Homo sapiens: one gene and its partners. The protein of the gene in region 1 purifies or fractionates together with the protein of each later gene. This does not show direct contact. Each region holds a gene or a part of one and is shown in the gene's direction. Other genes may lie near its edges.

Region 1 (3,500 bases):
GGGATGCATTGCATGTGTTTTGCAAGAGTAAAGTATTATTTCATACAACTTTAATAAAACTTCTCTTAGTTTTCCATATGTATATACCAGGGTACAGTATATTTTTCTTGCAGTGGGTCCTGGTACAGAAGATAAAAATACAAAAATTTTTTTTCTGTTGTTGGTAAAAATACCCGAATCCCCGAGTTTCTGAATCTAAATCTGAATCTAGGAAAAAAGGGCAGGAATGTGACTAGACTTCAGACTAGGGGAAAGGCCTCCCGAGATTTTAGTACCAGCAAAACTGAAAATCGGAATTCATTTTTCTGGGCTGATTAGGAACCAGTCCTGTGTTAAGACTTTAGATGCTTTTCTCGCAGACATATCATAAGGTATGATGAACTGTCTTGCCTGGTGTGGTGGCTCATGCCTGTAATACCAAGCACTTTGGGAGGTTGAGGTGGGATGATCACTTGAGGCCATGAGTTTGAGATCAGCCTGGGCAATATAGTGAGACCCTTTTATTTTTTTTTTTTTTCGAGACAGAGTTTCGCTCTTGTTACCCAGGCTGTAGTACAATTGCGCGATCTCGGCTCACTGCAACCTCCATCTCCCAAGTACAAGTGATTCTCCTGTCTCAGCCTCCTAAGTAGCTTGGATTATAGGCATGCGCCACCACAACTGGCTAATTTTTTGTATTTAGTAGAGACAGGGTTTCACCGTGTTAGTCAGGCTGGTCGCAAACTCCTGACCTCAGATGATCTGCAGGCCTCGGCCTCCCAAAGTGCTGGGATTACAGGTGTGAGCCACTGCTGCCAGCCTGAGACCCTATCTCTTAAAAAAAAAAAAAAAAAAGCCAGGTGTGGTGGTTTGCTGGTTGTCCTAGCTACTCAGAAGGCTGAGGTGAAAGGATCGCTTGAGCCCAGGAGTTCGAAGCTGCAAAGGAGCTATGATGGCACCACTGTACTGCAGCCTGGGCAACAGAGTGAGACTCTCTCAAAAAAAGAAAAGGAAAAGAAAATACGTTAATTTTTTTTTTCAGAGAGAACTTCATGAATACTAGATAAAGCATTTATATGGTGATAGCTCTTGGAACAGTTGGTTAAACTGAGGTATATGCAGAAAAGCAGTACTCTGCCCTGAAATCCCAGAGACAGCTAGGATACATTCTCAAGCCCTCTGTTCCCCCATTGCTTTGCTCCTGTTTCTGTGAGTGGCTGGACTGGAATGTAGCTAGGCCTCTAGAGAAAGGGAACCAGGAAGGATTGGGCTACACCCGGGAGAGGCTCCACTCCTCTCCTGCAGTCTCTGGAATGATTCAGGTTAGTGGTTTTTCAAATATCCTGTGGGATTGGAACAGACTTGGATTCCTTTTGTTAAAAGATTGTTCTTCCAATCAATGACATCCTACTTAAAAAAAAAAGTGTTCTGAAAGAAGAAAGCCCATAATGAGTGTGAAAGGTTAAGAGGCTTTTTTGTCAAGCCTGATGAATTTTTTTTTTGGCAGAGTCTCACTCTGTCCCAGGCTGGAGTGCAGTGGCAAGATCTCAGCTCACTGCAACCTCCGCCTCCTGAGTTCAATTCATTCTCCTGCCTCAGCCTCCTGAGTAATTGGGACTACAGGCATGCACCACCCATGCCCAGCTAATTTTTGTATTTTTAGTAGAGATGGGATTTTACCATGTTGGCCAGACTGGTCTCAAACTCCTGACCTCAAGTGATACGCATGCCTTGGCCTCCCAAAATGCTGGGATTACAGGCATGAACCATGAAGCCCAGCCAAACCTGATGAATTTCTATCTGGAATTTAGAAAACAGGATGAGGTAAGCAAGGGAAATTCCTATGAAATGCTTTATTTGTATTTCACCTTTTTTATAATTATCCATAACTCTGATATGCTTTATAAAAATATTTGTTCCCATCAGATTTACATTTGACATTTATTAATAGAATCTGAAGTTAAAAAAAGAAGTCAGGCCGGGCATGGTGGCTTATGCCTGTAATCCCAGCACTTCGGGAGGCCAAGGTGGTTGGATCACCTGAGGTCAGGAGCTCAAGACCAGCCTGGCCAACATGGTGAAACCCTGTCTCTACTAAAAATACAAAAACTAGTCGGGCATGGTGGCACATGCCTGTGTCCCAGCCACTCAGGAGGCTGAGACAGGAGAATCACTTGAACCTGGGAGGCGGAGGTTGCAGTGAGCCGAGATCATGCCGCCACTGCACTCCAGCCTGGGCGATAGGGCGAGACTCCGTCTCAAAAAAAAAAAAAAAAAAAAAGTCAAAGCAAACTATGTGAATTTGCTGACCCCTAGTGGGTAGAATGGATTATGAATATAAGCTATTTACATTGAAGGGTAATTGCTGATGGAATGTTTGCTTAATATTTATTTTATTGTTATTACTATTATTTTATTCTTATTTTTTGAGATAGGGTTTCTCTCTTATCACCCAGGCTGGAGTGCAATGGCGCGATCTCAGCTCACTGCCACCTCTGCCTCCTGGGTTCAAGCGATTCTCCTGCCTCAGCCTCCAGAGTAGCTGGGATTACAGGCGTGCACCACCACGCCAGGCTAATTTTGTATTTACAGGAAACTGTAAATAATAGCACTTCCTAAAACCAGTGGTCTCTACTTTAAAAAGCAAAATAACAAAACAGCATTAACATTTACTTTTATTTTTTAATTTACATATAAATTATATTGTATGTGTTTACAGTATCCACCATGACATTTTGATAGATGTGTATAAAGTGAAATGGTTACTACAGTCAAGCAAATTCACATATCCATATCCTCATTAGTTTCCTTTTTTGTATGTGTATAATAAGAGCACCTGAAATTTACTCTCTTAGCAAACATTTAAATATTTAGCAAACAGGCCAGGTGCAGTGGCTCACACCTGTAATCCTAGCACACTGGGAGGCCTAGGCGGGCAGATCACCTGAGGTCAGGAGTTCAAGACCAGCCTGGCCAATATGGTGAAACCCCATCTCTACTAAAAATACAGAAATTAGCTGGGTGTGGTGGCGGGCGCCTGTAATCCCAGCTACTCTGGAGGCTGAGGCAGAGAATTGCTTGAACCCGGGAGGCGGAGGTTGCAGTGAGCCGAGATCGTGCGCTGCTGTATTCCAGCCTGGGCGACAGACAGAGCCAGACTCTGTCTCAAAAAAAAAAAATATATATATATATATATATGTGTGTGTGTGTGTGTGTGTGTGTATGTGTGTATATATATGTGTGTGTGTGTGTGTGTATATATATATATATATATTAGCCAGGCATGGTGGTATGCGCCTGTAATCCCAGCTACTTGGGAAGCTGAGGTACGAAAATTGCTTGAACCCAAGAGGCGGAGGTTGCAGTGAGCCGAGACTGGCCACTCACTTCAGCCTGGGTGACAGAGCGAGACTCTTAAAAAAAAAAAAAAATCAATACTACCTTTTATGAACACTCCTAAGCATATCAGCAAATTCATACCCAATTATATCAGAATTATGGGCTGGGCGCGGTGGCTCACG
Region 2 (3,500 bases), on another chromosome or scaffold:
CACAGGATAATGAAATTGCCTAAGGACACATTTCACAGAACATGCCCCTTTTGTTAAATGACATGTGAGTGTATGTCTGAGGTGGAATATCTGTGTGCAGGAGGGCCTTTTCCTCCTTGTGCTGCTATTATTTTGATGTCAGAACCATCCCTTGGACTGGTTGATATTGTTTTAAGCAATTAAATATATCATGTTCATGTTTAAGTGCCTTTGTTTTCCCTGTCTTCTAAATTTCTTCCATATCTTTACTCAGTAGGGCTCTGCATTCTTTATATGTTTTCATGATGATTCATTTTAGTGTCTTAATAAAATTATATTTTGCCTCTATAGAAAAGATTATGAACTATGCAGTATGCTATGAGCTGTGATATAGTTCATGTATGCTTGAAAATGAATGTTTACTTTAGGACTTTATCACCATTCAGGATATATTGATTGCCTGGTGTGCAAGGAGCTGTGTGAGGTGAAAATGATAGGGTAATGGCAAGCTTGGAAAATGATATAGGTTTTCATGTTATGACCATTAGGAACAAGGAGTGGTTCACTTATCCCTTTAGAATATTTTTCATATTACTCTTTGAGATAGATTTAATGGGCGTCCCATGGAGAGAGGAGTGAAGGAAACTAACAGTTCTCAGCTTCAGGAATATTTATGGAATTATCAAGAACCCTAGAGGCAGCCATAATGGAGCCTTTTAAAAAGGCACTATTTTATATTGTTAATTTTAATGAACTTTTTTGTTGTTGTTGCTTTTTTAAGGCAATGAATTTCCAAGGGAAGTTAAAGTATCTTCATGGACAGAAAAAGAAAGGGAAAGATGGATCAATACTTCCACCTCAGTTGGCTTTGTTTGCGATAGCTACTCCACTTCAGCCACCATCCATACTTGAAATCCGGACCAAAAATTTTATCTTTAGAACCAAACACAAACTAGACTTCACACCTATTGGTTGTGATGCCAAGTAAGTGAGACTTTTTCACTTTTATTTTATTGGATGTACATTATGTTTCAGTAAGTCTCTCTTAGCATGTAAAACATACAGTGTATGTAATATTGTTTATTATTAGATTGGCTATTATCGTACATTCTTCCAGTGTAGCCTTTTACAGTAAAATAATTTAATCAGGCTCACAAATCATCTTTTTAATTTTTGCAATACTTGTCTCAAATGATGATGTTCTTATATATTAGTAAGGTTTATTCTTCTGATGACATTTATGTTGGTTTGTTTTACATTTTTAAATGGCACAAATGTTATTTGATTTCTAGCCCCAGAAGTTTTAGTAACTTTCAGAAAATTGTGAGCAGGAGTCTGATATTAAACATTTATATCATATCAAACATATCAGTGCTTTTCTCCTTTCTAATGTGGGAATGCAGAGAGGTAATTAGAAAAACCTTCTTCCCTAAAAATAGATTATAAAAACATTCCAGATTTTTATTAAAGATGTTCTGTTACCCATACATCTGCTCTATTAGATTCATTTTTAGCATACTAATTTCCATGGATTTATTCAGGAAAAGAAAATAGGCTGAAACTGAAATTTGCAATCATAAGCAAAGAAGATCAGTTTACATGGATGTGTTTAATTTCACATCTACTTATGTGAAATTCTAAATGTGAACTAAAACATATTGCAGAAACTAGCGTAAAACCAATGAATTTATCTTGGTTATTTCATTTATGTTAAATCTTAATCCATTCTTATTTTACCTTTTTTTATTTTAAACAGAGGAAGAATTGTTTTAGGATATACTGAAGCAGAGCTGTGCACGAGAGGCTCAGGTTATCAGTTTATTCATGCAGCTGATATGCTTTATTGTGCCGAGTCCCATATCCGAAGTAAGTTGTAGTTCCTTATGAACATGTCAGAAGAAAACGGCATATACTGTTGTACATGTTTCAAATTCTTACGTAATGTAAAGTGTTTAAGTAAAGTATATGGATAAACTTCTACTTAGTAACATATCATTATGATTAACCAGGGTTACACTCTTTGTTCATTAACTTGTCTACACCTGCCATGTAGAAATATTGTTGTTTAGTTATTAAAAAATGACCATTTTGGCCCATGAAGTTTTGCTTGGGAATTTTTTAATTACATCGTTATCAATTCATAAATCTATGTTAATATTGTAACAATAATAGTGTTAATAATTCTAGTTTAAAATTATAAAGTATTAGGCTGTAGGAAAATATTCCCTATTTAAAATGAAAATAATTTTTTCCCCAACTTATGTTCTCTCTATACTTTCCTGTGTTACTAGAATTGTTTGGTACATAATCTTCCCTTTAACATTTAAAATAATAAATTTAAAACAACTCTGAAAAACTATTTCCATGCCTTTTATTATTTTTTGTTTAAAATTTATTGTCTTTGGGGATAAAGGAAATACATCCAGAACTATGTCACAAGAGCTTTGTTTTAGGAATAATCTTTACTATATTGATTTGGGGGTTTGATAATTTAATTTTTTAATTTTATTTTAGTGATTAAGACTGGAGAAAGTGGCATGATAGTTTTCCGGCTTCTTACAAAAAACAACCGATGGACTTGGGTCCAGTCTAATGCACGCCTGCTTTATAAAAATGGAAGACCAGATTATATCATTGTAACTCAGAGACCACTAACGTAAGCACAAATAATGTTTCCTGTTTTAACAGTTTTGTTTTCATAAGTCCTCTTATGTGAAAGCATAAAAATAATTCAAGCAGACTTTAGTCTGTAAATAAAAATTGAAAAGTTTAATTCATCTAGAAAGAAGAGCACAGGTGAGAGACATTGAGAAGATAGAATTGACGAACTTGATTGAGAGCTACATGTGCAGAGCTATAGAAAGAATAATAAAACTCTAGGGTTTTATCTTGGGCATATGAAAGACACATGAAAAGCTAGTGTCATTGGTAAAAAAGAAGAAAAATATAACAATGCTTTATTTAGAATATATTCTCTAAACCCAGCAGTGATTTTAAGAGTTTCTTACACATGCTGCAGATGAGTCCTTTATCAAATATTTGTATTGCAAATGTTTCCTCCCACTCTGGAGAATTGATTTTTGTCTGTAGCTTGAGGTAAGGATTGATTCCCCCCAGCCATTATACGTATACCCAATTGACCAGTAACATTGAAAAGATGATTTACCGAGAAGGTCATTGTTTCCCGGCTGCGCTGTATTTTGATCAGGGGATTTTGTCTGTGGTTCTCTGTCTGGATTGTGTTGTTCTATTAATAGCTCCATTAGTGCAGTTGTCTATTTTGTCTAGCATTACACTGTCTTAGTTATTCTATCTTTATTATATATTTCTATGTCAGAGTGTGTCATTTTGTTTGTTTTGCCTTTTTTGTTCTCCTTCAAGATTGCCTTGGTTCTTCTTTGCCCTCTATAATTCCATATACATTTTAGAAAGCAGTTGTCTGAAAATCTGTTGAGATTTTGAGTGCAATTACCTTGAAACTGTAGATCATTTGGGGAGAATTAACATCTTTTTAATACTGA
Region 3 (2,178 bases), on another chromosome or scaffold:
ACAGTGACAGACCTCGCCTGGCGTTGCTGTCCCGGCTTCACTGGGAAACGCTGCCCTGAGCACCTCACGGACCATGGGGCTGCCTCACCCCAGCTGGAGCCTGAGCCTCAGATTCCTTCAGGGCAGCTGGACCCAGGCCCCAGGCCCCCTTCCTACAGCAGAGCAGCCCCCAGCCCTCATGGTGAGTCTGCCCAAGGAGACCCTCCAAGGTGATTGGGTTTCTTGGGCTCAGTGGCAGGGGCAGGGAGGGGACTGATCCCAGGCTGGCTGAGCTCCGGCATGGATGGGGAGGGGCAAGCCCCAAGCCCCACTTTCACCCCACCATAAAGCTGAGGGAGTTATGCCCAGTGAGAAGGTAGGCTTAGAACAGAAAGTCTGGGCTGGGCGCGGTGGCTCATGCCTGTAATCCCAGCACTTTGGGAGGCCGAGGCGGGTGGATCACGAGGTTAGGAGATCGAGACCATCCTGGCTAACATCGTGAAACCCCATCTCTACTAAAGATAGAAAAAAAATAGCCGGGCGTGGTGGTGGGTGCCTGTAGTCCCAGCTGCTTGGGAGGCTGAGGCAGGAGAATGGCATGAACCCGGAAGGCGGAGCTTGCAGTGAGCCAAGAGCACACCACTGCACTCCAGCCTGGGCGACTGAGCAAGACTCTGTCTCAAAAAAAAAAAAAAAGAACAGAAAGTCTCTTGGGTGGCCTGGCATTGTGACAAGCTGAGAGGGTGAGGCCAGTGATGCCCCTGGGGCTCTCTTCTCTTTCCCAGGAAGGAAAGGCCCAGGGCTGTTTGGTGAGCGGCTGGAACGCCTGGAGGGTGATGTCCAGCGCCTGGCTCAAACATATGGTACCCTCAGTGGCCTGGTGGCTAGCCACGAGGATCCCAACAGGATGACTGGTGGCCCCAGGGCTCCTGCTGTCCCTGTGGGCTTTGGGGTCATCCCTGAGGGGCTTGTGGGCCCAGGAGACAGAGCCAGAGGGCCACTAACACCTCCCTTAGACGAGATCCTAAGCAAGGTGACAGAGGTGAGCAACACTCTTCAGACCAAGGTGCAGCTTCTAGACAAGGTGCATGGGCTGGCACTTGGCCATGAGGCCCACCTGCAGCGGCTGCGGGAAGCCCCACCATCCCCGCTCACCTCCCTGGCCCTGCTGGAGGAGTACGTGGACCGACGGCTGCACCGACTCTGGGGGAGCCTGCTGGATGGCTTTGAGCAGAAGCTGCAAGGCGTCCAGAGTGAGTGTGACCTGCGGGTGCAGGAGGTACGGCGGCAATGTGAGGAGGGTCAGGCCGCCAGCCGGAGGCTGCACCAGAGCCTTGATGGCCGGGAGCTGGCCCTGCGCCAGGAGCTGTCACAGCTGGGCAGCCAGCTGCAGGGCCTGAGCGTGTCTGGCAGGGGCAGCTGCTGTGGGCAACTAGCCTTGATCAATGCCCGTATGGATGGCCTTGAGAGGGCCCTGCAGGCAGTCACCGAGACCCAAAGGGGCCCCGGTGCCCCGGCCGGGGATGAGCTTACGAGGCTCTCTGCTGCCATGCTCGAGGGAGGTGTGGACGGGCTGCTTGAGGGTCTGGAGACGCTCAATGGGACAGAGGGTGGAGCAAGGGGATGCTGTCTGAGGTTGGACATGGGGGGGTGGGGAGTGGGCGGCTTTGGGACCATGCTGGAAGAGCGCGTGCAGAGCCTCGAGGAGCGCCTAGCAACATTGGCTGGGGAGCTAAGCCATGACAGCGCCTCTCCGGGCAGGTCAGCTCGGCCCCTTGTACAGACAGAGCTGGCTGTGCTAGAGCAACGGTTGGTCTCACTGGAGACTTCGTGCACCCCGAGCACCACCTCAGCCATCCTGGACAGCCTCGTGGCAGAGGTGAAGGCCTGGCAGAGCCGGAGCGAGGCCCTCCTACGCCAGGTGGCCAGCCACGCAGCACTGCTCCAGCAGCTCAATGGCACTGTGGCCGAGGTCCAGGGACAGCTGGCAGAAGGGACGGGCAGCTCACTTCAAGGCGAGATCACTCTGCTCAAGGTCAATCTGAACTCAGTGAGCAAGTCGCTCACAGGCCTCAGTGACTCTGTCAGCCAGTACTCTGATGCCTTCTTGGCTGCCAACACGTCCCTGGATGAGCGGGAACGCAAGGTGGAAGCCGAAGTCCAGGCCATCCAGGAGCAGGTCAGCAGCCAAGGCTCCAG
Region 4 (3,500 bases), on another chromosome or scaffold:
GCCGGGCTTGTAGGGAGAGGCTTAGCTGGGCCTGCAGGGGTGAAGCCCTTCCCCCTTGGCCTCCAGAGACTGGGCAGGGGCATAGCCCTGCTAGGCTGGCCTTGAGGGAGGGCCTGGGTTCCTCTCCCTGCTTGCCGGGGAACCTGGGCAGGTGATGGGTCTCTCACCTGTCCCCAGACCCCCAGCCCACACATCGCCTATTGCCCCTGCCAGCGCCAGGCCCACATCCCCACATGTCCCAGCCCCGTTCCTAGAAGGGCAACATGCCCGCCAACCCCCGCCCAATCCAGGCCCTATAGTCCCTCCTGTGTTCTAGGGGTTTGGTGTTGACAAAACCCTGTCCCAGATCGTGGCCCGCCAGGCAGGAAGGACAGGGGTGAGAGGTTGCTATTCGCAGAGGAGGCAACTGAGTCCTGGAAGGACAGGGGTGAGAGGTTGCTATTCGCAGAGGAGGCAACTGAGTCCTGGAAGGACAGGGATGAGAGGTTGCTATTCGCAGAGGAGGCAACTGAGTCCTGGAAGGACGGGGGTGAGAGGTTGTTATTCACAGAAGAGGCAAATAAGTCCTGGAGGCTGGCCCCTAGGGAAGAAGGGGAGCTGGGAGAGCTGGCAGGTGGGGTGAGGCAGGTACCGCCCCGTCAGCCAGCTCAGGTTCACTCTGGATGACTTCCTGCCATCCAGGTGTAGGGACCCCAGCTGGCGGGCGGTGAGGCCCTCTCGGCGGGCGGGCAGGCACACGTCCCTGCGGGAGCAGGTAACCGGAGCCCTGGGCTCAGGCGAAGGTGGCAGTAATCTTACCTGAGTGGCTGGCATGAGGTTTCCTGGGAGTCGAGAGGAACTCCCTGCTGGCCCTGAAGCCCAGGTGTGGCTGTGCCGGGAGACCGGGTGGCCTGGCTTTTCTCTGCCTGCCCCGTGGCCAGAGCTGCTCTCAGACCCATGCTGGCCCCATCCTCTGACCTCACTATTGCTGCTTCCTGGTCCTGCTGGTTCCTGTCCAGCGGCTACAGTGACTGTTAAAGCCTGGTGGGTCCCAGTCCTCACTCAGACCCCCAACAACAGACCTCACTCAGACCCCCAACAACAGACCTCACTCAGACCCCCAACAACAGACCTCACTCAGACCCCCAACAGACCTCACTCAGACCCCCAACAGACCTCACTCGGACCCCCAACACCCGAACAGACCTCACTCAGACCCGCAACAGTCACCCACTTCGCTTAGCCTCAGGAAGGAAGTCCGTGGTGGGGTCTGGATCTGTGGTATGACCCCACTGTCCCCGTGGGCTATGCGTTCTCAGCCCCTGGGCCTTCTTGTGGGCTCTGCCATGCAGCTCCTTCACTTCCTCATGCCCTGCAGCCTCAATCTCAATGCCACCTGTTCAAAGCCTGGCCTGGCCTTTTTTTTTTTTTTTTGAGATGGAGTTTTGCCCTCGTTGCCCAGGCTGGAGTGCAATGGTGCGATCTCGGCTCGCTGCAACCTCGGCCTCCTGGGTTCAGGTGATTCTCCTGCCTCAGCCTCCAGAGTAGCTGGGACTACAGACACCTGCCACCATGGCTGGCTAATTTTTATATTTTTAGTAGAGATGAGGATTAACCGTGTTGACCAGACTAGTCTCGAACTCCTGACCTCAGGTGATCTGCCTGCCTCAGCCTCTTAAAGTGTTGGGATTACAGGCGTGAGCCACTGTGACCCGTTGGCCTGGCCTTATTGGAACAACAGCCCCTGCCCCCTGTTGCTTTCCCCGAGCCCCGCTGGCTATAGGTTGCCGTCCTTGGTGGCAGAGGCATGCCTGCTGTACACTTGATGTGAACGAAGGAAGGAAGGAACGAAGGAAGGAGCCAAATGCCAGACGCCTGGGAAGCGGCTGGGTGCTCCAGGTGTTACCGGGGGTGGGGAAGGGCTTGGCCAGGTGCAGCTGCGAGGGTGGTGCTCCAGGCAGATGGGTTGATAGGCTGGGGTGGGTGGGTGGGGGTGGGCAGGAGCCTTGGGAACCCCAAGGGTGCTCTGAGCTGAGAGGGCGTGGACAGAGTCCTGGTGGGGGTGTGGATGGAGCCCTGGGGGGTGTGGATGGAGCTGACGGGGGTGGTTTGTGGACAGAGCCCTTGGGGGGTGTGGACACAGTCCTGGGGGTGGTGTGGACAGAGTCCTGGGGGGTGTGGATGGAGCCCTGGGGGGGTATGGATGGAGCATGTTGGGGGGTGTGGATGGAGCTCTGGGGGGGTATGGATGGAGCCCTGGGGGGGTGTGGATGGAGCATGTTGGGGGGGGTGGACAGAGCTCTGGGGGGGGTGTGGACGGAGCCCTGTTGGGGGGTGTGGATGGAGCATGTTGGGGTGTGTGGATGGAGCATGTTGGGGGGTGTGGATGGAACTCGGGGGGTGTGGATGGAGCTCTGGGGGGTATGGATGGAGCCCTGGGGGGTGTGGATGGAGCATGTTGGGGGGTGTGGACAGAGCTCTGGGGGGGGGTGTGGACGGAGCATGTTGGGGTGTGTGGATGGAACTCTGGGGGGGTGTGGATGGAGCCCTGGGGGGGTGTGGATGGAGCTCTGGGGGGGTGTGGATGGAGCATGTTGCGGGGTGTGGATGGAGCCCTGGGGAGGTGATGGAGCCTGTTGGGGGGTGTGGATGGAACCCCGTTGGGGGATGTGGATTGAGTTCTTTGGGGGTGTGGATGGAGCTCTGGGGGGTGTAAACAGAGCTCGGCGGGGGGTGTGGACGGAGCCTTGGGAGGCATGTGGATGGAACTCTGGGGATTGTCTGGCGCCTGTAGGCAGAGGTTTGCGGGCCCTGGTGACCTCAGGGAGCCCTGGAGATGGGCGGGGACTGGGCCCCGTGGCCTGGCGGGGCCATGGCGGATGTGGGAAAACGGGTTTAAGGGGAGCTTAAGAGGTGGGATTGAGGGTCTGTTGTCAGCTCGACGTGGCTAGGGAGGGTTCTAGGAGCGGGTTGGGGATGGCCCCCCACTTCCATCCTGTGCTCCTACCTGGGTGAGCCTCCTCGGGCCGTCCCCGGGTGTTCTGCAGGCAGGGGCTCGGGGGCGGGGCCGGGGTTGCCCAGCTGTGAGTGAGGCCCAGGGTCAGCAGTCATGTTGGGCCCTAGTTGTCTGTATTTGAGGGACAGTCGGAGGTGTGGGGCGGGGGACTGGGTGGGGGTCCTGGAGGCTGGGCTGGGTGTGGCTGGTAGCACGTTGGTTAGGGGAGGGGCTGGACGTGGGAGTGCAGTCTTCTGAGACATCTTGGGAGGCCAGGCCTGTCCTTAGCTGGATGAGGCCGAGGCACTGGGACGTGCGTGGGGTGGGCGGCGGGTGAGGACCAGGGAAGGGCTGGCAGGCGTGGGGTTGGGCCTTGCTGGGGAAGTGTGGTTTTCCCCAGCTTAGCCAGGCCTTGGGGCTGGTTGGATGGGGTGTGCTGAGGGATGGAGTGAGCCTGGCCTGCCTGGACACTGCCCAACGCAGCATCCCCCCGGGGTGGGAAGCCAGCAGGCCCTGAGGTGACTCA
Region 5 (3,500 bases), on another chromosome or scaffold:
GGAATGCTGCCTAAAATGAAGGTGAAAGAACTAAGAAAGATAATGTTCAATCAACACACATAGTGGGGAGAAAAATTCAAAGCCACATTAGCATTATCTGTTTAAAAAGAAGAAAACTCCTTTTAAGGAAGCAGACCTGACAATGTGGTTGCAATGCTGTTTTCACAGATATTGATGAATGTATGATAATGAACGGAGGCTGTGACACCCAGTGCACAAATTCAGAGGGAAGCTACGAATGCAGCTGCAGTGAGGGTTATGCCCTGATGCCAGATGGGAGATCGTGTGCAGGTATAGAAAGGAAAACACACAGGTTTTGTACATCTAACTAATTTTTTCTTGAAAATATGGCTCCAGATATTACCAAGTGGAACCAGATAGAAAACAAAAACATTTGAGATTGATGAACGACATTTTTATTTTCATTTGATGCTAATTTTGTATCATCAGACATTGATGAATGTGAAAACAATCCTGATATCTGTGATGGCGGCCAGTGTACCAACATTCCTGGAGAGTATCGCTGCCTCTGCTATGATGGCTTCATGGCTTCCATGGACATGAAAACATGCATTGGTGGGTATCATAAGAAAGGATAAACATTTATACACACACATGCACACACACCCACATGCACACACAAGCGTGATAAAAGGAAGGCTTTTTCTGTTGTTATTTTAAAAATTCAAATCATTTTACTAGAACTGTAAAATCTCAGGAAGAATTACTTTTAAAAATGTCTAAAGGCAGGTTGTATATTTATCTATAACACGATGATTTGCGGATGGATTATATTTTAGATCTTGCCTGTGTATTTCAGTATTATGCTATTCAGTGTAGAAGATAGCTTTTAAATTACTGTGATGAGCACATACTAAGATATTGAAAATAAATTTTCTAGATGTCAATGAATGTGACCTAAATTCAAATATCTGCATGTTTGGGGAATGTGAGAACACAAAGGGATCCTTCATTTGCCACTGTCAGCTGGGTTACTCAGTGAAGAAGGGGACCACAGGATGTACAGGTAGGTTTCAAGCTTGTGTTCTCTGTATTTCAACTTCTCAGATGTCAAAGGCCAACTTTCAACATCATTTGTTCTCTGGCATCTCTTAGAGCGGTTACCTGCCACCAGACTGTGACTGTGTGTGTGATGAGTGTGTGACCTATAGGATGTGTGATGGATTTGGCTGGTCTCTGTGGTAGCACGCTGTCTGAGCCACCCACCGTGGGGCTGGCTGTGGGCTGTGACAGAGTGAGTGAGTAGGAGTACAGTCTGGTTCCCATGGCCCTGACCACTTATGGTCGTTCATGCAGCATCAGTCACTTTCTGAGTATGACTGCTGCCCGCTTGGAAGACATTCATGTACAAAGAGCACCAAAAGACCCGAGGATCCCGGTTGCCATTTACCTCTGCACTTCTTTTAAACTAGTAAAAATTAATCAAGTTTCATTGAGACTCTTTCCCTTTCTTCCTTTCTCCCATCTTTTCCTTTCTTGTTTGCTCTTCTGTTTGCTTTTGTCTTCTCTTCTCTGTGCCCAAATTGCCTTTCTCTTTTTCCTCTCTTCACTTTCCTTCTTTGCTCACTTTGCTCACTTTGTCTTTTGTTCCCTTTCTCTACTACTACTACTAACTAGTTTTAGCCTTTTGCATGCAGGTGGGGCTAGGATGTGCCGGGGTCAAGGTTTTGGATCACGTATTCCTCAGTGCACAATTTAAGACTTATGTGTGATATTTTTTCAAGGCAGGTGGTGGAAGACTTAAGAGTCCAACCCAGCCCTTAAGCTGACCCCTCCAGTAAGGGGCAGATTATAAAAGAAGGTGTTCTTTGCATGTTCACCACTGACAGGGTTGATGTGAAGCCAGTAGTGTGTGTGTGTGTGTGTGTGTGTGTGTGTGTGTGTGATTTCAGCATCTATAATATGTAATCGTTGAACTAGATAGAACACATTACTATTTATAGTCAAGAAAGCTTTGGAGAACCAAATCTACATAGGTTATACATACATATATAGGGATATGTGTGTGTGTATACAGACACACAAATACACACACACACACACGCACACACACACACTGGCGAAAGCATCTGGCTACTTTCCAGATAACATTCCCAGTGAATATTTTTCTATAATCTCAAATAAGTAGAAGAAATAAAAATATACACCTAAATGAATAGTTTTTTTTAAATTCTGTAAAATATTTATATTGATTTTTTAAATGACAAATGATCATGTAATTTTAAAGAGAATAAACTATTACTTTTTTTAAAAAGTTAGATTCTTATCTTCATGAAAAATATGTAATAAATATCAATAGGAAGGAATAGCACCATCTATTATTGGAAATAAGATTTCTCTTGATCTGTAATCGAATGTCCTCTTTATGGTGTTGTGTCTGAATCTGGGCAGGGAAGAAGGCCCCAGGATAATACACATACCTGCCGGGGAGCAACACTGCTGTGTCTCTCTCTCTTCTACTGGAAAGTGGCTGACAGTTGTTTCTAGGGAAGAACTTGTTTTATTAGGATCATGAATTTTCCAAGTCCTCTTGGAGCCTACAAAAATTAAAAATAAAAGTTAGTTAGGCTACTCTTTTCTCCATACGGTTGCATCTTTACTTTAAAATGTTACCTATACAAAAATATACTTGGAAGTAGAATTAATTAGTTTGTATTTTGATTTTCTTCTTATGAATTATGGTTTATCAGATGTGGATGAGTGTGAAATTGGTGCTCATAACTGCGACATGCATGCCTCATGTCTGAATATCCCAGGAAGCTTCAAGTGTAGCTGCAGAGAAGGCTGGATTGGAAACGGCATCAAGTGTATTGGTGAGTTTGCAAATGTAAATATCCTTTGCTAAGGCACAAATTTTTAAAGGCTCTTTTTTGCATGGTTGTAGAATCATGCTCTTCACTTTTATTAATTCCTTTATAAAAAGGTTATCTTAGTTGCAAGATAATTCCTGCCTAAGGGTGTCCTTTACCCTTAATATAAATTATCAAAATTTCAACAGTATGCCTTGGCACCTGTTTTTTAATGTGTTTTTGTTCAGTAAAAATTGATATGCAGCTGGTGATCCAAACACAGCTGTATGATGAAAAATGACTAGTATGTTCTTCCAATCTTTTCAAAGAAGTAATCAGTGAGATTTAAAATCCAGTGGAATAAATGGAGAGCAATGAAAAGGTTTTTTCAGATAACCTAATTTTTTAGTAAGTCATCAATACCACCATCTTATTAGAAAATAGAATTCTTCTTACAGGAAATTGTAAATGCTTTCTTGCATTCCAAGAGGTCTTATTTGAAGAAAAAAAATAGGCAAATTCTCCAAGTTTTATGGTTCTTGAGCCAGAGTCTAAGAAGTCTTTTATATCTGAGAGGGAAGGGACTAGAATATACCCTGAGTGTCATTCACAGTTTTGTGTAATATGCTTAGTGTTTCACATGCCTTACAATAAAGCATTTTTCCAACTAGTAAGAATTTCTAGGTCAAT
Region 6 (3,362 bases), on another chromosome or scaffold:
GGGGCATGGGCATGACCTGGTTCCAAGGGCACCCGGATTCCCCAGAGCTGTGCTGACAGGCACTGGTCGGTCCACAGGGCCTCCTGGACAAGATCCAGACTCTGGGGACCCTGCTCCATCTGGGCTTAGCAGCCTAGACCCTGATGCGTATGCCCCTCCCACTCTGGCTGCCACCAACCTTTTTTCTGGTGTCCCAATGCCAAGTGTCCCTACCACACCAGGTGTCACCCTTCAATTATATCTCAAATGCCCTCCTCTGAAGCGCCCCCCCGTCCCGGCAGGTGTGGCACTCTGCTCACACTTCTGGTAGGTCACCACACCTGCCCTGTGATCACCTGTTAGTGCACCTGCAGCCCTGGGGGCTCTTCATGGGGAGACATGTCAGTTCTTCTTGCTAGACCCACTGTTTACAGCAGTGTCCAGGCATGGCAGCTTCTCAGTAAATGCGTGTTTAATTTGTTATTCATTGAAGCGGCCCGCCACTGACTTGCCGTGAAATCACACAGCAGACAGGTGTTGACCTCTTACCATGTGCAGATAACATGTAAGTGTCAGAGAGACATGGGCCTACACTCTAATTGCCGATCCTCCAGAGGAGACAGACAGTATGACCCCCCACGTTTTGCTAAACCACAGGCACCAGAGATTTCCTCGGTCCACACACACGCAGTTATCCCCAGGCTGAGGATGTCACAGAAAGGCCAGGGTGGATCAGAGTGGTCAGGGAGGGCTTCATGGAGGAAGGGGAACTTGAGCCTGGCCTGAGAGAAGAGGCAGGATGTGGGTAGGGAATTGAGTGGGGGGTTCTACTGAAATGAGAACAGATGAGCAGCCCACACAGTGGGGTGGGATGCCGAGCCCAGATGAAGCAGCGGTAGGGGCCTTGGAAGCAGGAAGAGGGTGCGGCAGTGGGGCCATGGTTCCCTGGTGATGAGCTCTCCTCTACCCTGCCCGCAGACATCCAGAAGAATTACGAGTGTGCCAACTTCGGCGATCAGGGCATCACCATGGGCTGCTGGGACATGTACCGCCATGACATCGACTGCCAGTGGGTTGACATCACTGACGTGCCCCCTGGAGACTACCTGTTCCAGGTGAGGTGGGTGGGAAGGGGTTCCAGCCCTGCAGGGGGAGGAGGGGAGGCCACCTCCACAGGCTCCTTCCCATTGGTGTCCACACAGGGGCATGGAAGTCAGGCTGTCTAAAGGGCAAGGTGCTACCCCCAGAGGCCATCACGGTCCATCAGTTAACCCAAAGATATCAGGCATGGGGGCCTGAGAAATAGGGCGTGCACAGGACCAGAGACACCACAGGCATTCACATTTGATTGAGTTAACACCTGGTGCATGCAAATCAAAACTCATCAGCAGGCTAGATTTGCTCCTCCGGCCAGTTTATTCCATACATGCTCAGGCAACCCACACCTCTTGTCTCCTATGGAGCTCTTGTCTCCACCATCCCCATTTCTCCTAGTGCCCTAGGCTGCCTTGGTCTGTGCTTTCAAGACTGAAAGCAAACTCATAAAGAGCCAGTCACTTGCAAATATCTGTGACTTAGCTCTTCCGGAAATATCTGCCTCATAGAGGAGGATCTGCAGAAGGGGCCATTCTCAATGCAAAGTGAATCTATAAGAATAAAATACTGAACACGAGACACAGCCTGGCCAGGTGACTTCTTTGTCAGAGGGGTTGCCGAGATTTGTTTCCACATACTCTGGGTGGAAGGCCAGCCCTGAGGAGGAACAAGGGGGCCTTGGCTTCCCTCCTTCCTGAAAACAGCGGCATGTTCTGGCCAGGGCTCTAACTGGGGGAGAAAAGGGGCATTGTGTCCCTAGTGTCTCTCCCAGTGCACGGGTACACGTAGCCTGCAGAAGCTTTATCTCACCCTCTCACTCTCTCCTACGTCCTCACCCATCTCGTTTTCCAGCTTGCCCTGTTGGCTAGCAAAGTGGATGACCAGAAATGTGTCATTCCACCTTGAAAGCTTTCCTGAGGGGGCATTCAGCCAGCCCAGGGCCTGGCCCACGGTCCCCACCTACAGACAGTCCTCTGAAGAAACAACACCTTCAGAGAAGTCACCACAGAGGGGCTTTCAGAGAATTCCTGGGCAGTTTCAGAGGCTGGAAAGCAGACAGCCAAGCACTTTTCCACCCACAAGCCCAGAACCACAGACTTGGAGAGGCCTAACCAGAGAGTTATTTATTTTAAAAGATGAATAGCCGTGGCCATGTGCACGTATACAGTGCCTGGTGGTTTCTGTTTGAGGTTTGCTATCATTTTGCTGGGTGAGTGTGTATCTCCCTGTATTCTGGCCAGTGCCATCCACTTAATAACTACTATCAATTGCCTAAGCCTGGGGAATGCATTGTTTGATTTAATCTCCCAAGGAAGGGGCATCATCATTACCCTCATTTCACGGCCACCCAACCCCAGACATATCAACTCTTTATTTTGTTTTCTCAACCCCTAAACAATACAATTAGCAAATGGACTCATTAGGGGCATGTTAATACCTCTGATTAATCAAAAAGAACATTCCCCTTAAGATAGACATGGAGCTTCTTTAGGTGCCACAAGCACCGGCCTGGGGACTCACGGGACACAAGAGGTGGTCTTCACTTCAGACATCAGTGGTGCTGTGAAGGACAGGAGGAGGGAGCTGGGCGAGGAGGAAGTGACCGTCCACGCAGAGGGACCTGTGCAGAGCTCAGAGGCAGGGGTGAAGGGGCCTCCTGGCTCCTGGTGGCCCCGCTTTATCCGCTTTCTCATCATTTCCTAGATTCACAGACATACAGAAACCTAAAGCCACTTCCCGCAGGCCCTCGTGAGATGTCGGTCTGCAGTAGATGAGTGGGGTGAAACAGTGGGGGACACACATTTCCAGCCCCGCCTCCACCCCACACGTAACACTGGCCCTCGTGTCCCCAACACGAGCCCTTGCTGCATCCAGCCGCCCTCACGGCTGCACTGTCGAGACGCCTGGGCGGCCAAGGAGCTGCCTAGGCCTGCACAGCTGGAGGCCTTGGCATGTGGAGCTGTGTTTGCCCCATGCCATGTGTGGGCCAGGAACGAGGGGGCAGCTAGAATGGTTGGGTGGAAAAGAAAAAACTCAAGCCGCCCCGGAGCAGGGCATGTACCTCCTTAGCTAAAGGCACAGGGCCCCAGCGGGACACAGCTGAGCCAGGTGCAGGCCCCCAGAACAGCCCCGCTGGGCCAGAGCAGAGGGCCGGCTGCCAGGCTGGCCTTGGCTTCCCACAGCACCTCTTTGGGCAAGCCCAGCGGCCTGCTAAAGGTTCGTGTCCAGGCCCTTCTGGGGCCCCAAATTTAGAGAATGTTCCTGAACGAGCAGCCTGTACCCGCCCC
Region 7 (3,500 bases), on another chromosome or scaffold:
AAGGAAATGAGCAATTGTAGAGCAGGTGAAAACGCTGGCATGGGTAGGTTCACTAAGGTGGGTGAGCAAGAAAGGACAGTGGACACCCTGCCGTCCCCCCAGCACCCCGTGGCTCATTGCTGCAGTCAGCTGGAGGAGAGGTGGCAGAGGTTGCAGAGCCAGGTCATCTCGGAGCTGGATGCTTGTAAGGAATGCACGCAGGGGGTCCAGAGGGAGGTCTCCATGGTGGAGGGCAGGGTGTCTCATATGGAGAAAACTTGCAGCAAGCTGGACTCTATCTCAGGAAATCTTCAGAGGATCAAGGAGGGGCTCAACAAGCATGTCAGCAGCCTGTGGAACTGTGTCAGGCAGATGAACGGAACGCTCAGGTCGCATTCCAGAGACATTTCTGGCCTGAAGAATTCAGTCCAGCAGTTCTACAGCCACGTCTTCCAGATTTCTACTGATTTGCAAGATCTGGTCAAATTTCAGCCATCAGCAAGTAAGTTGAATATTACAATTCTATTTCTTGTATTTCTTTGCAGCACGCAACAACATTTTAAAAATAATTTTTTGTTCATTTTTGATATTGTTGAAACTTCATGAGGTAAAAATGTGACAGTATTATGCTAGATTTTGGACAGTTCACGGAATGAACTAAATGCCATCAGTCCTACCCAAATGTGGTTCATAGATTGGTGCCTGAATTATCTGGTGCTGAGTAGCAATAAGATAAATATATATTCTCAGTGTTAATATTTAGGAACTTCTAAAATAATTTGACAGACTGGTTGCAGTGGCTCATGCCTGTAATCCCAGCACTCTGGGAGTCAAAGGAGGGTGGATCACCTGAGGTCAGGCATTCGAGATCAACCTGGCCAACATGGCGAAAATCCGTCCCTACTAAAAATACAAAAATTAGCTGGGTGTGGTGGCACGCGCCTGTAGTCCCAGCTAGTCGGGAGGCTGAGGTGGGAGAATTGCTTGAACCTGGGAGGCAGAGGTTAAGGTGAGCCGAGATTGCATCACTGCACTCCAGCCTGGGCAACAGAGTGAGGCTCCATCTCAAATAAATAAACAAACAACATTGCAGTATTTAAGCACATGATCTACGTAATTTACAAAAATATCAGTTCACAACACATTGAAAATAAAAAAGGAAAACTGGTTCTTCCCACAGATGGATAGCCAAATATTATCTGTAGAATCAGGCTGGTGAGCTCAGAGTTGGGGTCAGATTTTTGGCATAACAGCTTGGGGCAGTGGGTGTTGTCCTCTCTTCTACCTAGGGAGTCTCCTACGTACCTCTCTTCAAGCATCACTTTTTATCTGTGTCGTTATCATCTTCAGGGCTTAGCTGATGGCAGATAGGATGCTGTCATATTTGTTTCCAGACACAGGACCGTGGATGAGAGCAGTTTAGGGACAGGAAGTATCTAAAGCTCCATAGTGCCTGCATCCAGGAAGCTCAGCAGTAGTGCTGAGAGCAATGCTGGCTACACCTTAGGCACTCAACAAATGTTTGTTGAATGAATGAATGTGAATGAATGAATAATATATGTAATAAGATTTTTTTGTTACTTGTGGGTGCTAAACGCAGCCTTCTCAAAGGACAGAGCTTCTCTTGTACCTGGGTTTGTACTCTGAGACAGCCTCCGACATAAGCTAGCCCTCTCTAGTCGGAGTCTGGGCGTGAAAGGAAGGAAGAGGGAGCTCGCGTTTTTGAACACTTTCTATGTACAGCACTGGCTTGGTCACTTCAGGGGGACTGAATCCTATCATGGCCTCACAGAAAGGCTGTTTTCCAACAGGGAAAATGTGCCCAAAGTCATGTGGCTGTTCAGTGGGGGAGCCAGGATGGAAACCAGGCCAGGCTGCGTCCAAGAATTGTTTTCTTGCAGTCCAGCCATGATGACTGTGTGTCTCCCAGAACTGAGTGCAGACTTACTTGGTCCATGGGGACTTGTTGAGGGGCCTGCTTTGTGCTAGAAGGAACCTATTCCTGACCTCCCCCTCCCTGTTTTCTTTTCTCCCATCCTTGCCTTTGGGACTTTTACCTCCCTGACCTGGTTCCGCTCTGGGTGACACAGGCCCTTGCACAAGGAACTGAGATTTCATGGCCTCTGTGAACCTTGGGATTTTATGATCAAGTCCCAGATGAGACATAAAACCCAAGGCAGCGTAGGCTAGAACGTGGGAAGCAGGCGAGCTCTGGCTTGGTCAGGGAGAGCCAGGGCCAGGTCCTGGCAGCTCAGGAGGGTGGAGAGGGTCCGAGGTAGGTGGGAAAATGCCCTGGATGTCCCCAGAGCACTGTGCTTATCTTGCAGATGACGAGTCACCTAGGCCCAGGAGGACCAGGAATCTGGCCGCCACCCGAGTGTCCAGCCCACTGCACCTCACTATTTATAACCCAGCCCTTCCCCCACTCCAGGGCCACTCAGCTCCTCTATCTCTGGAATGTTGAGTAGAGGTCACAAGACCATGTATGTGTTCATAGAATGATTGTCCCTTGTGGTGACAACGCTGTCTGGTCTGTGTCTTACGATAACAGGTTGAATCAGATATTTCCAGTTGATTTGGAACTCCCTGGTGGCGTGGGAAGCTGTGTTAACATTTTCGCATTTGTCTGTTGCAGTAGGAGTTGGGGGGTGAATTCTTTTAAAAGAGAATGTGCCATACAAAACATTATCCCTTTGGACTGAACTCATTGTGGTGAGTGTAGACTGCATGGAGTTTTGAGAATTTCATTGATTGGAAAAGAGCCAGAAATAAACAAGCAGAGCCTCCTCTGCCCTTGTCTAGCATCCAGGTCTAGGAGACCTGGAACCTGAGTATCAGAGGTGCATGGGAGAATCTGGAGCTAAGGTCACAATGAAAGTGACATGTCAATCAGTTAAAAGTCAACAGAATGTTTATTGAGTGCCTACGATGTGCAAGGCTCTTGGGGGACCTGGAGATAAGTAGGCATAATCCTTATTCTAAAGCATTTGCAATCACAGTGGGAAAGAGACTCACAGGTCTGCAGAGAGATGAATGAGATTGTTTGTGGCATAGCAGTTTATCCCTTTAGTTCATAAGCTCTTACTGAGCCCCTATTATGTGGTAGGTAATGGCTGTGTGGGGGAGTATGTGGATAAAAGTCTGATGGGGAAACAAGCAGACAGATGGTCACAGGAATGGGGTGTGGTGTGCATGAGCCACCTTGAGTGTTCAGAGAAGCACCCACAGTGGAAGTCAGGGAGGGATTCTCAGGAGAGAGCCCTGAGCTGAGCCCTCAGTGTAGGTATTTACCGAGCAGAGTACAGAGGCTGATGGGGTGAGGAATAAGGTGAGATGAGAGAAGCTTCCAGGAGGAGGTGTTACTGGATCTGATTGAGGGATGGGTGGGATTCAGAAAGCAGGAGGGGAGGACATTGTGGATTAGCTATTTATTGCTTTATAACAACCCATTCCAAATCTTGCTGGCTTAAAACAACAAAGATGTATTAGTTTCCATTATTCTGTAGGTCAGGAACCCCGGC

Evidence for each region.
Region 2: the proteins of MFAP5 (region 1) and AHR purify together in Homo sapiens (affinity purification with mass spectrometry; one large-scale study listed by BioGRID and IntAct). This does not show direct contact.
Region 3: the proteins of MFAP5 (region 1) and EMILIN3 purify together in Homo sapiens (affinity purification with mass spectrometry; one large-scale study listed by BioGRID and IntAct). This does not show direct contact.
Region 4: the proteins of MFAP5 (region 1) and JAG2 purify together in Homo sapiens (affinity purification with mass spectrometry; one large-scale study listed by BioGRID and IntAct). This does not show direct contact.
Region 5: the proteins of MFAP5 (region 1) and FBN2 purify together in Homo sapiens (affinity purification with mass spectrometry; one large-scale study listed by BioGRID and IntAct). This does not show direct contact.
Region 6: the proteins of MFAP5 (region 1) and LOXL2 purify together in Homo sapiens (affinity purification with mass spectrometry; one large-scale study listed by BioGRID and IntAct). This does not show direct contact.
Region 7: the proteins of MFAP5 (region 1) and EMILIN2 purify together in Homo sapiens (affinity purification with mass spectrometry; one large-scale study listed by BioGRID and IntAct). This does not show direct contact.

Annotation. Positions count from the first base shown.
Region 1 is NC_000012.12:8,656,327-8,659,826, reverse strand, and holds part of MFAP5 (microfibrillar-associated protein 5 isoform a precursor), read left to right. Parts: intron 1-3,500. UniProt on the Homo sapiens protein: May play a role in hematopoiesis. In the cardiovascular system, could regulate growth factors or participate in cell signaling in maintaining large vessel integrity. Component of the elastin-associated microfibrils.
Region 2 is NC_000007.14:17,333,152-17,336,651, forward strand, and holds part of AHR (aryl hydrocarbon receptor), read left to right. Parts: intron 1-760; coding exon 761-963; intron 964-1,735; coding exon 1,736-1,845; intron 1,846-2,493; coding exon 2,494-2,635; intron 2,636-3,500. UniProt on the Homo sapiens protein: Ligand-activated transcription factor that enables cells to adapt to changing conditions by sensing compounds from the environment, diet, microbiome and cellular metabolism, and which plays important roles in development, immunity and cancer.
Region 3 is NC_000020.11:41,361,641-41,363,818, reverse strand, and holds part of EMILIN3 (EMILIN-3 precursor), read left to right. Parts: coding exon 1-181; intron 182-764; coding exon 765-2,178.
Region 4 is NC_000014.9:105,158,777-105,162,276, reverse strand, and holds part of JAG2 (protein jagged-2 isoform a precursor), read left to right. Parts: intron 1-3,500. UniProt on the Homo sapiens protein: Putative Notch ligand involved in the mediation of Notch signaling. Involved in limb development.
Region 5 is NC_000005.10:128,332,246-128,335,745, reverse strand, and holds part of FBN2 (fibrillin-2 precursor), read left to right. Parts: intron 1-168; coding exon 169-291; intron 292-450; coding exon 451-576; intron 577-901; coding exon 902-1,027; intron 1,028-2,711; coding exon 2,712-2,834; intron 2,835-3,500.
Region 6 is NC_000008.11:23,299,759-23,303,120, reverse strand, and holds part of LOXL2 (lysyl oxidase homolog 2 precursor), read left to right. Parts: intron 1-957; coding exon 958-1,094; intron 1,095-3,362. UniProt on the Homo sapiens protein: Mediates the post-translational oxidative deamination of lysine residues on target proteins leading to the formation of deaminated lysine (allysine).
Region 7 is NC_000018.10:2,892,006-2,895,505, forward strand, and holds part of EMILIN2 (EMILIN-2 precursor), read left to right. Parts: coding exon 1-481; intron 482-3,500. UniProt on the Homo sapiens protein: May be responsible for anchoring smooth muscle cells to elastic fibers, and may be involved not only in the formation of the elastic fiber, but also in the processes that regulate vessel assembly. Has cell adhesive capacity.